Homo sapiens: one gene and its partner. The protein of the gene in region 1 interacts with the protein of each later gene in a biochemical or structural test. Each region holds a gene or a part of one and is shown in the gene's direction. Other genes may lie near its edges.

Region 1 (7,421 bases):
TGAGCCATGACTGTGCCACTGCACTCTAGCCTGGGCAACAGAGAGATAACACTCTCTCTCTACTTATCTCTCTCTATATATACATATATGTGTGTGTGTATATATATATGTATATATTTAGTATTAGTACTCACATTGCTATAAAGAACTACCTGGGACTGGGTAATTTGTAAAGAAAAGAGGTTTAATTCACTCGCAGTTCTACAGGCTGCACAAGAAGCACGGCTGGGGAGGCTTCAGGAAATTTACAATCGTAGTGGAAGGTGAAGAGGAAGCAGACATGTCTTACATGGCAGGAGTAGGAGAAAGAGAGCAAAGAGGGAGGTGTTACACACTTTTAAACAACCAGATTTCTTGAAAATTCTATCACAAGACAGCACTAGGGAGATGGTGGTAAACCATTAGAAACCACCCCCATGATCCAATCACCTCCCATTAGGCCCCACCTCTAACATTGGGGATTACAATTCAACATAAGATTTGGCTGGGGACACAGAGCCAAACCATATCACACACACACACACATATATATGGTGTGAGCTTTGAAGTCACTTATATTTGTGCCCCATTTGCTTACTCATGACTCTGGAAGTGTTATATAATTTTTTTAAAAAAATCTGTTTTCTTATTGTAAAATAGGGATAATAATAGTACCCACTTCATTTGTTCAATAAATATTCTGAGCAACTATCATGTGTCTGGCACTGTGCTGAGCACTGGGGATTCCACACTGAAAAAGAGAGGTATGCTTCCTGCCATTGTGGAGCTTGCATCTCAGTGAGGGAAACAGGGCTAAATTATTACTACGTATGTAGCTAAGTGCAATGGAAAGTAATGTGCATATTATCAGTAATCCTATCTAGTCTGTGGGAGAGATGCTCATGAAAGGCCTTTCCTTCACCTAAGTTGAGTTTTGAAGGATAAAGAGGAGTTAGGGAGGCAAACAGAAAGGGTTTAAGACCATTCCGGGTAGAGGAAATGGTAAATTTGAAGAGGCATGCATGTTGAAGAAACAAAGAAAGCCCAGCGTGGCTCCATAACATCAAATGTTATGGAGGTTAAGTGAGACAGCAGATGGTTCTGGATATTTATCGGTATATAACAAACAACCTCAAAGTCTTAGTGGCTTGAAACAATTATACTTATTCTGATTATTAGTCTGCAATCTGGGTGAGGCTCAGTGAAGTTACTTCATCTCTGCTCCACTCCATGTCAGCTAAAGAAGTAGAGTGACAAACCCAGGCAGAAGCTCTAACACCTTTTGCAACTTAGCATCAGAAGTGTCTTAGCATTACTTCTGCTATAGTCACTGACATGCCCAGATTCAAAGCTGTGGCCATAGGTATTAGCTTATGTTAGAGAAGTGTCAGCATCATATTATAAAAAGAACATGGAAAATGCAATCTTCTCAAAGACACACAGTATTAGAAGAATGCATATTCAGCCAGGCGCAGTGGCTCACCCCTGTAATCCCAGCACTTTAGGAGGCCAAGGCGGGATCACTTGAGGTCAGGAGTTCGAGACCAGCCTGGCCAACATGGTGAAACCCTGCCTCTACTAAAAATACAAAAATTAGCCAGGCATGGTGGCTCACACCTGTAGTCCCAGCTACTGGGAAGGCTGAAGCAGGAGAATGGCTTGAACCCGGGAGGTGGAGGTTGAGCTGAGATGGCACCACTATACTTCAGCCTGGGTGATGAAGTGAGACCCTGTCTCAAAAAAAAAAAAAAGAAAAGAAAAGAAAGAATGCACATTTGTTGGGCGCGGTGGCTTACGCCTGTAAGTCCAGCACTTTGGGAGACCAAGGTGGGTGGATCACCTGAGGTCAGGAGTTCGAGACCAGCCTGACCAACATGGTGAAACCCCATCTCTAGTAAAAAAATACAAAAATTAGCCGGGCGTAGTGTGCGCCTCTAGTCCCAGCTACTCGGGAGGCTGAGACAGGAGAATTGCTCGAACCCAGGAGGCAGGGGTTGGAGTGAGCTGAGATCACGCCACTACACTCCAGCCTGGGTGACAGAGTGAGACTCGGTCTTGAATAAAAAAGAATGCACAGTCATAGTTTATATCAGAATTATTACTTGGTATTATCACCACCATCATCACCCAACTTCCCTCATCCTGACCACATACTTAATATAGTATTTTGTTGCTTTGAGTTACATAGCATTGGTGCACATTTAAATTTTCATATCCATTGAAATAACATATTTTATAAATTAGGAACAACAGGTTCATGCATGTACTAGACACTTGGTATATGATAGAATATATTGTTGTAGTTATTCCACACATTGTCTGTCTTACTAGTCAACCTTCAAGGATAAGGAGTTGCTGTTACATACCTGTAACCCTGATGTCTAGGGCAGTGTCCTGCCCAGAGTAGGCACTGAATAAATGTTTGTGTTTTTTATTGTTGTTGAGCTATAATTGTTAACTTGAGATTTCCTAAGCAGGTGGGTTTTCTATCCTGTATTATTTCTAGTTCAGATCATGCAATCTATGCCTAATATATATTTTCTATTTACTCTTTTTCAGTAACTGCTGTCTCAAAGTAAAAAATGGAAATCTTTGCCTGAATGGACTGGTAGCAACAGATCTGAAATTCTTAGAAATGTTGGAACCAGAAGCTACTTCCCACACAATCCATGAAGTGGGGGAGAGAGAGACAGAGAGAGAGAGAGAAAAGAGAGAAAGAGAGAGAGAGAAACTGGGTCTTATAGAGAGACAGACACAAGTACTACCCAGTTCTCGACCCTCACCAGGTTTGTGGCTTTAGGTTCTGTGCCTCTCTTCCTTATGTGTAAAATGAGGCTAATAACACAGCAGCACAGGGTTGTTGGAAGAGTAAAATGAAGCAACAAACAAGAAGATGCTAGGGATGGTAGAAAAATGCTAATAAATGTCAAATATGGATAGAAAGGAAATTGGATATGAGGTATAGGTCTGTTTAGTTTTATTAACAATAAAATAATTATATATTTAATATATTTACCAAAAAAGAAACTGCTTGACAAAATAATTCCATATACTATAACGTCAAATTGTAAGGCTTCCTATTGCTTTCACTTTTTTTAGTAAAAGTTTTTATTGAAGTATAATCTGATTGCATTTTGGAATAAGTTAATTTACAATAATTTAATTTATCTTATAGCCTTTTAAGATCACATTCAGTGCAATGGATAAAGCAGAATGTATCTATAATTTATTGTCAGGGTTAGAGACTTGAACTGATAAGGATATCGTTATCTACTGTTTAGGGCAAAAGATGTAAAATGACTGTGCATTAAGTGCCAAGGTTTTCTCTAAAAAGGGCCCACTGTAAACGCCAGAAGCGTGCCAGTTCAATTCAACAAATATTTAATTAGCACTTGTGATTTCCAAGGCACCGTTTTGGGTACTGAGGAGGAAGCAAAAAATGAATAGCTGCTAATGCCAGCGAGAGACAAGACATGAACCAAACAACTAGAGTGGAAAGAGTGGGGCGTCGTGATGTAGAAAACGCAAAGCACAGGAAGAACCTAGTGGCGCTTAAAATAATCCAACTTTTCCTGCCTTTTTTCTTCTTCTTTTTAAGATTCTATTTTGGATCCCTTTTCGCATGTGCCAGGTCGCTTGTCGGCAGAGAATCCTCAACCCTGAGAAATCTCTCCTCCTATTCTTTCTTTCCTCACAAATTCGATGAGCTCTTCTGCCATCAGCACTGCTTTTGGAATGGTATCTATTGTGTGGGTGGCGAAACGATGGAGAGATATTTTTGTTCTAATTATGAGAACTGTTTTACTGGGGGAAGGAGGGAGAGGCTGATCTGAAGCGCTGATGAGCTGCTCTGAGAGGATCCTCCGAGGAGGCGTTACTAAGGTTACTAGAGAGAGGACGGCAGGTGATAGGCACGGTAAAACAAAATATATTTTCAAATGAGAGGCGTGGGCTAAGCAGCAAGCAGTGCCAGCGGTACTAGATGCCGGATTCCCTAGAGGGGAAAGGAAGGAGGCCCAGGGAAAAACTGGGAGCCGCGACTTGGCGAAAGCTGGAAGCCTCTTCGTCCCTTTCCGGGCCGTTTCTCCCGCTGCCCTTGTTTCCCGGAGCTGTTCTGGCTGTAGCACAAGGTCGGCGCACTCGGGGGACGGTGCCATTTAGATGTAACACGTGGCCGTGTCGGACCGGAAGTGGTGCCCAGTCGGGACCCGTAGGGAGAGGCGGGTTGCGGGCGGCGGCGGCGGCGGCGGCGGCGGTGGTGGTTGTGGCGAGGCTGTGCGGCAGGGCGCACGGGACCTGTGCTGCAGCGGCTCTCTCAGGCCGTGGGTCGTCGCTGCAGCTGCCGGGAAAGAAGGAAACGACGACTCCGGGGGCGAACTTGGCACACAGGGAGGAAGGGAAAGGGTGTGTGAGGAGGGCTGTGGGTATATTTGGCATCAGGGAGAAGGACCTCAAAACTTGTTTTTCATATAGTACTAGCTGATCGTCGGGTTTTTTTTTGTTTTGGTTTGGTTTTTTTTTTTTTGGATGACAGATTCTGGAGACACCTGGCATCTCCGTTTTTGAGTTTCTCCCCGCTCTTGTCAGTTGATTCGTAGGCCTGAAGTGAGTGAGAGCTTTTTAGTTCAACCAGTGAGTTAAGATAGGTATGGGTCGGATGGAGCGGCCAGCGAATAAAGAAATGGGAGAGTGGGAGCAAGAATAGGAAGTCGTGTCCTGGGGCGAGGGAAAAGATGATGATGATGATGTAACATTTACTGGGTTTCACTGTACAAGACACCGTTAAAACCCTTTAGATGAGGCAACTCTTTTAATCTCCATTCGTATGAGGTCAGCCATCTTACTAGCCTCTTTTTATAAATGAGGACACTGAGGCTTGGAGAGGTTAAGGAACAGGCCCAAAGAAAGACAAATGGAAAGTGCAGAGCCAAGCAGTGAAATCTAGTAGGCTGATCCTAGAATATATCTCTAAACACACTACAGCTGTCCCCCATCAAGATGTAAAGAACGTGAGGACATAGGACAAAGAGTGAGAGGACAATATGGCTTGAACAGATGTGGTAAGACAGCTGGAGTTGACCTAAAAAAGGGTGTAAAATCCAGGTGTGTAAGGCAATAACAGATGTAAGGGAGGGTAGAGTTGGAACTCGGGCTTTCAAACCTTCATCTCCAACCTTAACTAGCATCTTCCTATCTAGGATTTTAGTGGGGCAGAGAAGAGAGGTATATACCCACACACCTATGTTTGAAAATGGAATTACAGACTTTAAAGGTTATTTAAAGATTTAAACAACTTAAAGATTATTTCATGTAGCTATCTTATTTAATAGATGAAGTCCAGGGAGATGAAATGACTTATTCAAGGTAGCCAGGACTAGAAACATGTCGTTTACCCTAGATCCAATGCAATGAAGTTTAGAGAGTTCTTTCCTCTTTTTCCAGCTGCACTTGCTGTCGTTATATTAGTTTTAACAATTTGATATATCATTTAACCTGGACTGTTCCTTCCAGCCATGTAAATTAGTTATGTATGACATCAAATAGTCCATCCTTCCTTCTTAGTGTGTGTTCCAAATTCAGTGCAAAGCTGGAACTAGGAGCTTCTTCCAATACAATTGAGTGGCAACTGAGGTCTTCCAGCATTTCTAAGAATTTCAGTTCTAAAATGAAGTCCCAGCATTTTGGGATGCTGAGGTGGACGGATTGCTCAAGCCCAGGAGTTTGAGACCGGCGTGGGCAACATGGCGAAACCCCTTATCTACAAAAAAAAAATTTTTTTAAGTTTGCCAGGTGTGATTATGCACTCCTGTAGTCTCAGCTACTTGGAGAGGCTGAGGTGGGAGGATTGATTGAGCCCAGGAGGTTGAGGATGTGAGCCATCAAGGCGCCACAGCACTCCAGCCTGAGCAATAGAGCGAGACTCTCCAAAAATAACTGGATAAATAAAATGAAACAAGAGAAAGCTGACTAATCCAAAGGGCAAGGTGGTTTACCTTAAAGAAACTCAAAAGAAAATGGAAATCTCTACATATATTGAAAAAGATTACAGGAAAATTTTCATCAATTGATGATGTACTGTTCACAAATACTGTAATTCTCCTGGAATATAGTAAATCATATTCCAGAGAGGAAATTTGGAGTAATTGAAATTGTGGGCGCAGGAATCAAGTACAGCAGATTAGCCACTTACTGGATTTGTAAATAGATTTACTTAACTTTGATTACTTCATTCCTAAATGAAGATAACTTTCTAACTTGCAGAATTAGAAGTGTTGTTTGTAAAGTATTTAACACAATGTCTAGAACAAAGTTGGTGATAAACACACAGTGATTATTACTACTCTGAATCAAAAGTGAAGGATTGCTAAACCTTGTAAGCAGTCACTGCAGCTTTTAGGCCTGGTTTTTCAGTGAAAAGATCAAAGAGTAGCCTTCTTTGTTCACCTAATGATAATTAAGGGTGAAAAATGTTGATGCATTTCCTGAAAGGTATGTCTCTTATTTAAAAGCGAATGAAAGTTTTAGATGGCTAGATGGCCTGTGAATAGGAATCTGCCCACAATGATCCTTTAAAACTATTGTGGCTGTTTAAGATAACTTATTTTTGAATTATTGTTTCCTGGACAATTGGCAACATAGATTCTAAATAGCTGACTTTGTACTCCTTTACAGATGCATGGTCATGGAGGCTATGATTCTGATTTTAGTGATGATGAACGCTGTGGAGAATCCAGCAAAAGGAAAAAAAGGTAAGTAATTTTTTTTTATTGATCTATTTTTCACATCCTTTCTAGATTAATATGAAGTATAAATAAACAAGAGTGAAATTTTTGAATTCTGTTTACATGTGAAGACAATTGCTCTAGTGAATGAATTTTTGTTCATTAAGCTAATACATTGATTAAAAATTGGAGAACAATTGTGGGAAAAATAAAAATTAATTCTGCAAAGGGGTTTATTGAAAGGGAAAGAAGAGTTTCAGATTTCTGGAATCTTTTCAGAAATCAGTGAAACCTTTTCATTACATATATTTTTCATTCAACTGTCAAGGACTGTTTATTTGTAAATGTTGTAGCTCAGAAGGGGCTTGAATGGTGGTCTCTTGCCATTACTTGCCTTCAAAGTGAAGTTAATATGGAGGATGAAAGTATAATGCAGCACAGTTCTTACGCATACGTGAATGAGCAGACTAAGGTCACGGGAAGAAACTCAAGGAAGGTTTTTTTGAATTGCAAGAGACAAAAACTCTTAGCACATAAAGCCTGTGCGTTATAAGCAGGATACGTCTTGGTGGAGCTGCTGTGCGTAGGAGCATTGTTCTTAGCTTTCAGTGCATAGAAACTCAGTTTTATACTTTGACTCAGGAGTGGTTGACTGATGTATACTAACCAAACTTACACGGCTGTTGACTGATTTTTTTAAGCAAATGTATAGAAATTGGC
Region 2 (3,592 bases), on another chromosome or scaffold:
AGCCCCTGGCTCCACCAGCCCAGATTCACCTGGGGGAGCCAAAGGGGAACCACCTCCTCCAGTAGGGCCTGGTGAAGGTGTGGGGCTTCTGGGAACTGGAAGGGAAGGGACCTCAGGCCGGGGAGGAAGCCGGGCTGGGTCCCAGCACTTGACCCCAGCTGCACTGCTGTACAGGGCTGCCGTCACCCGAAGTCAGGTAAAGTATGGGAAGGCTCCCAAGCTCTTTCCCTTTTTCCTTATCCTCCCTGGGGTCCAAGTCTAATCCCCCACATTATGCTCAATTTTAAGCCATTCCCTACTTCACCCTTCGTAACTATGTTCCCTTCTCCTGGATTCTTAGTGACCTCTTTCCACTTCTAATCAGACCCCCCCCACCCCATCTCTCCTGCAGAAACGTGGCATCTCATCGGAAGAGGAGGAAGGAGAGGTAGACAGTGAAGTAGAGCTGACATCAAGCCAGAGGTAAGTGATGGCATTACAAGAATTAATGGCATTCTTGTTTTCTGCTAGGGGCAGAACCAAGCTGTAATCCCCCTCTTCAACATGTAGGTGGCCTCAGAGCCTGAACATGCGCCAGTCACTATCTACCTTCAGCTCAGAGAATCCATCAGATGGGGAGGAAGGCACAGCTAGTGAACCTTCCCCCAGTGGCACACCTGAAGTTGGCAGCACCAACACTGATGAGCGGCCAGATGAGCGGTCTGATGACATGTGCTCCCAGGGCTCAGAAATCCCACTGGACCCACCTCCTTCAGAGGTCATCCCTGGCCCTGAACCCAGCTCCCTGCCCATTCCACACCAGGAACTTCTCAGAGAGCGGGTGAGTGGCACAACAGCAAAAAGCAGATATTGAACAGGGAGAGCTGTAAGCAGATGCCTTGTCTTTTAACAGCTTTTGGGGAGACAGCTGCACAGGCCAGAAAGTACCATAAAGAGCAAATATCCACGTGGTGGAATTTCAGAAGCCTCTTGCACAGAGCATCTATTACGATGCCTGACCAGTAGCTTGCATGTAGCTATAAATTGCAGCCAGGGAATGATTCTGAAAGGAGTCTGACACCTTGGAGAATGGCCTGAGCAACTGAAATCTGGAAGGAATAAAACCAGTAAGCTGGCTGGGCATGGTGACTCACGCCTGGAATCCCAGAACTTTGGGAGGCCGAGGCGGGTGGATCACAAGGTCAGGAGTTCAAGACCAGCCTGACCAATATGGTAAAACCCCATCTCTATTAAAAGTACAAAAATTAGCTGGGCGTGGTGGTGCATGCCTGTAGTCCCAGCTACTCAGAAGGCTGAGGCAGAAGAATTGCTTGAACCTGGGAGGCAGAGGTTGCAGTGAGCCGAGATTGTGCTACTGCACTCCAGCCTGGGCGAGAGTGAGACTCTGTCTTAAAAAACAAATCAGTAAGCCACTGGCTATTAAAATGACCCCAGCAAAGAACCCCAAGGAATCTCACTCCATTTCTACTCTTTCTCACAGGGCCCTCCCAATTCTGAGGACTCAGACTGTGACAGCACTGAATTGGACAACTCCAACAGCGTTGATGCCTTGCGGCCCCCAGCTTCCCTCCCTCCATGAAAGCCACTCGTATTCCTTGTACATAGAGAAATATTTATATAAATTATATATATATACATATATATATATATATGCGCCACATAATCAACAGAAAGATGGGGCTGTCCCAGCCGTAAGTCAGGCTCGAGGGAGACTGATCCCCTGACCAATTCACCTGATAAACTCTAGGGACACTGGCAGCTGTGGAAATGAATGAGGCACAGCCGTAGAGCTGTGGCTAAGGGCAAGCCCCTTCCTGCCCCACCCCATTCCTTATATTCAGCAAGCAACAAGGCAATAGAAAAGCCAGGGTTGTCTTTATATTCTTTATCCCCAAATAATAGGGGGTGGGGGGAGGGGCGGTGGGAGGGGCAGGAGAGAAAACCACTTAGACTGCACTTTTCTGTTCCGTTTACTCTGTTTACACATTTTGCACTTGGGAGGAGGGAGGCTAAGGCTGGGTCCTCCCCTCTGAGGTTTCTCAGGTGGCAATGTAACTCATTTTTTTGTCCCACCATTTATCTTCTCTGCCCAAGCCCTGTCTTAAGGCCCAGGGGGAGGTTAGGAGACTGATAGCATGTGATGGCTCAGGCTGAAGAACCGGGGTGCTGTTTAAGTCCCTGCTTTTATCCTGGTGCCTGATTGGGGTGGGGACTGTCCTACTGTAACCCCTGTGAAAAACCTTGAAATATAACACTCCATGCAGGCCCAGCTGTTGAGGGTTTTCTTGATGAATGAATGGGGTACCATACATGGTTAAGATAAAGCCTTGGGCTCCGGACTTTATCTGAGGTGTCTGGAGAAGTTCTCCTGCCCCTCCACTTTTTTGCATCTACTCTCACTAAATGAGTATAATGTCAAGCCCCAACTTTCTAAAATTATAGGAATAAATGGTAGCAGATACATCCTTCTAACTTGTTATGGAGGACTATAAATGAAGTTACTAAAAACAATAGACTGAAATTTTTAGTTTAAAATATGCAAGCCTGAACAAGGGGACCAACATTCCCAAGAAACTGGAACCCAGTCAGACATATGATCAACTGCTTAATGTGTATGCCATGTATGTCATGTGTCATTCCTTTCCCCCACCCCCTCCCTAGTGGAAGTGCTTGCCTACTCCCCTAGGACAGGTAAGTCCTCGGAAAGTCTAATCCTCAATCTTTTGGGCACAAGTTTTATAAGGGCCAACCAAGCATGGAGTCAGGGAAAAATAGGATCGAGGGCCACAAAAAAAGATGGAAGTGGTAAAATAGAAGAAAACATCTTAACCGGAATAAAGGCTTCCATTCAAAACCCAAGAAGGGTCCTTTGAGGGATAAAAGGTACAAAAATAACAGCAAGACAAGAGGAATAAAACCCACATGAATCACTGTGGCATCCAGTTTCTATTCACAAAGAAAAAGCTCCAGTCCATCTTTTAATTTTTTTGAAAAATTCCTGACATTACAGAACTAAACTGAAATGTATTAATATTCCACTCTTACATTTCCATGACAAACAGAAAAATTCATGAGCCAAAAAAAAAAAACCAGGGAGAAGCTTATAAAACTAAATATGGATCTCAGCATCAACAGCTGAACAGAGAAAGGAATTAAAACGCTTTAATTAAAAAATCACGAGTGGATGATAAAGTGTGTAGAAACTGAAAATTTACAAACTATTTAAAACCTGGAATCGCTGACTGTTCAGAAACTACACAGATGGATCATGGGTGGTGGTGAACAGCAGAAAGGGATTATGGATGAATCTGCATTGTTCTAGCTGCTCCCCATGCCACCCGTCTCCGAGGAAAGCCTGTAACACAGAAACAAGAACTCAGTTAGTTTCCCCAGTGCTCAGCTGCACCTCATCTCTACCTGGTTCATGAAATGTGAAGAGTAAATAACCAGTGCTGGAGTACCAAGGGAGACATTTTAAGGTTTCTTAAATTTACCAGTACCATGATCCTTTAATCCTTGCAATTCAAGCATGTGGAGGTCTATTACCTCAGAACCAAGGGAAACAGCCCTTGTTATCCAATGTCCCTCAAAC

The links.
Region 2: the proteins of FRA10AC1 (region 1) and MAP3K12 form a complex in vitro, tested with the Homo sapiens proteins (one study listed by BioGRID).

The regions. Positions count from the first base shown.
Region 1 is NC_000010.11:93,699,337-93,706,757, reverse strand, and holds the start of FRA10AC1 (protein FRA10AC1), read left to right. Parts: upstream 1-4,165; 5' UTR 4,166-4,383; exon of another isoform or gene 4,384-4,584; intron 4,585-4,962; exon of another isoform or gene 4,963-5,082; intron 5,083-6,651; coding exon 6,652-6,728; intron 6,729-7,421. UniProt on the Homo sapiens protein: May be involved in pre-mRNA splicing.
Region 2 is NC_000012.12:53,479,169-53,482,760, reverse strand, and holds the end of MAP3K12 (mitogen-activated protein kinase kinase kinase 12), read left to right. Parts: coding exon 1-196; coding exon of another isoform or gene 197-262; exon of another isoform or gene 263-391; coding exon 392-462; intron 463-549; coding exon 550-820; intron 821-1,480; coding exon 1,481-1,579; 3' UTR 1,580-3,092; downstream 3,093-3,592. Other genes in the region: PCBP2 (poly(rC)-binding protein 2), read right to left, coding at 3,319-3,355.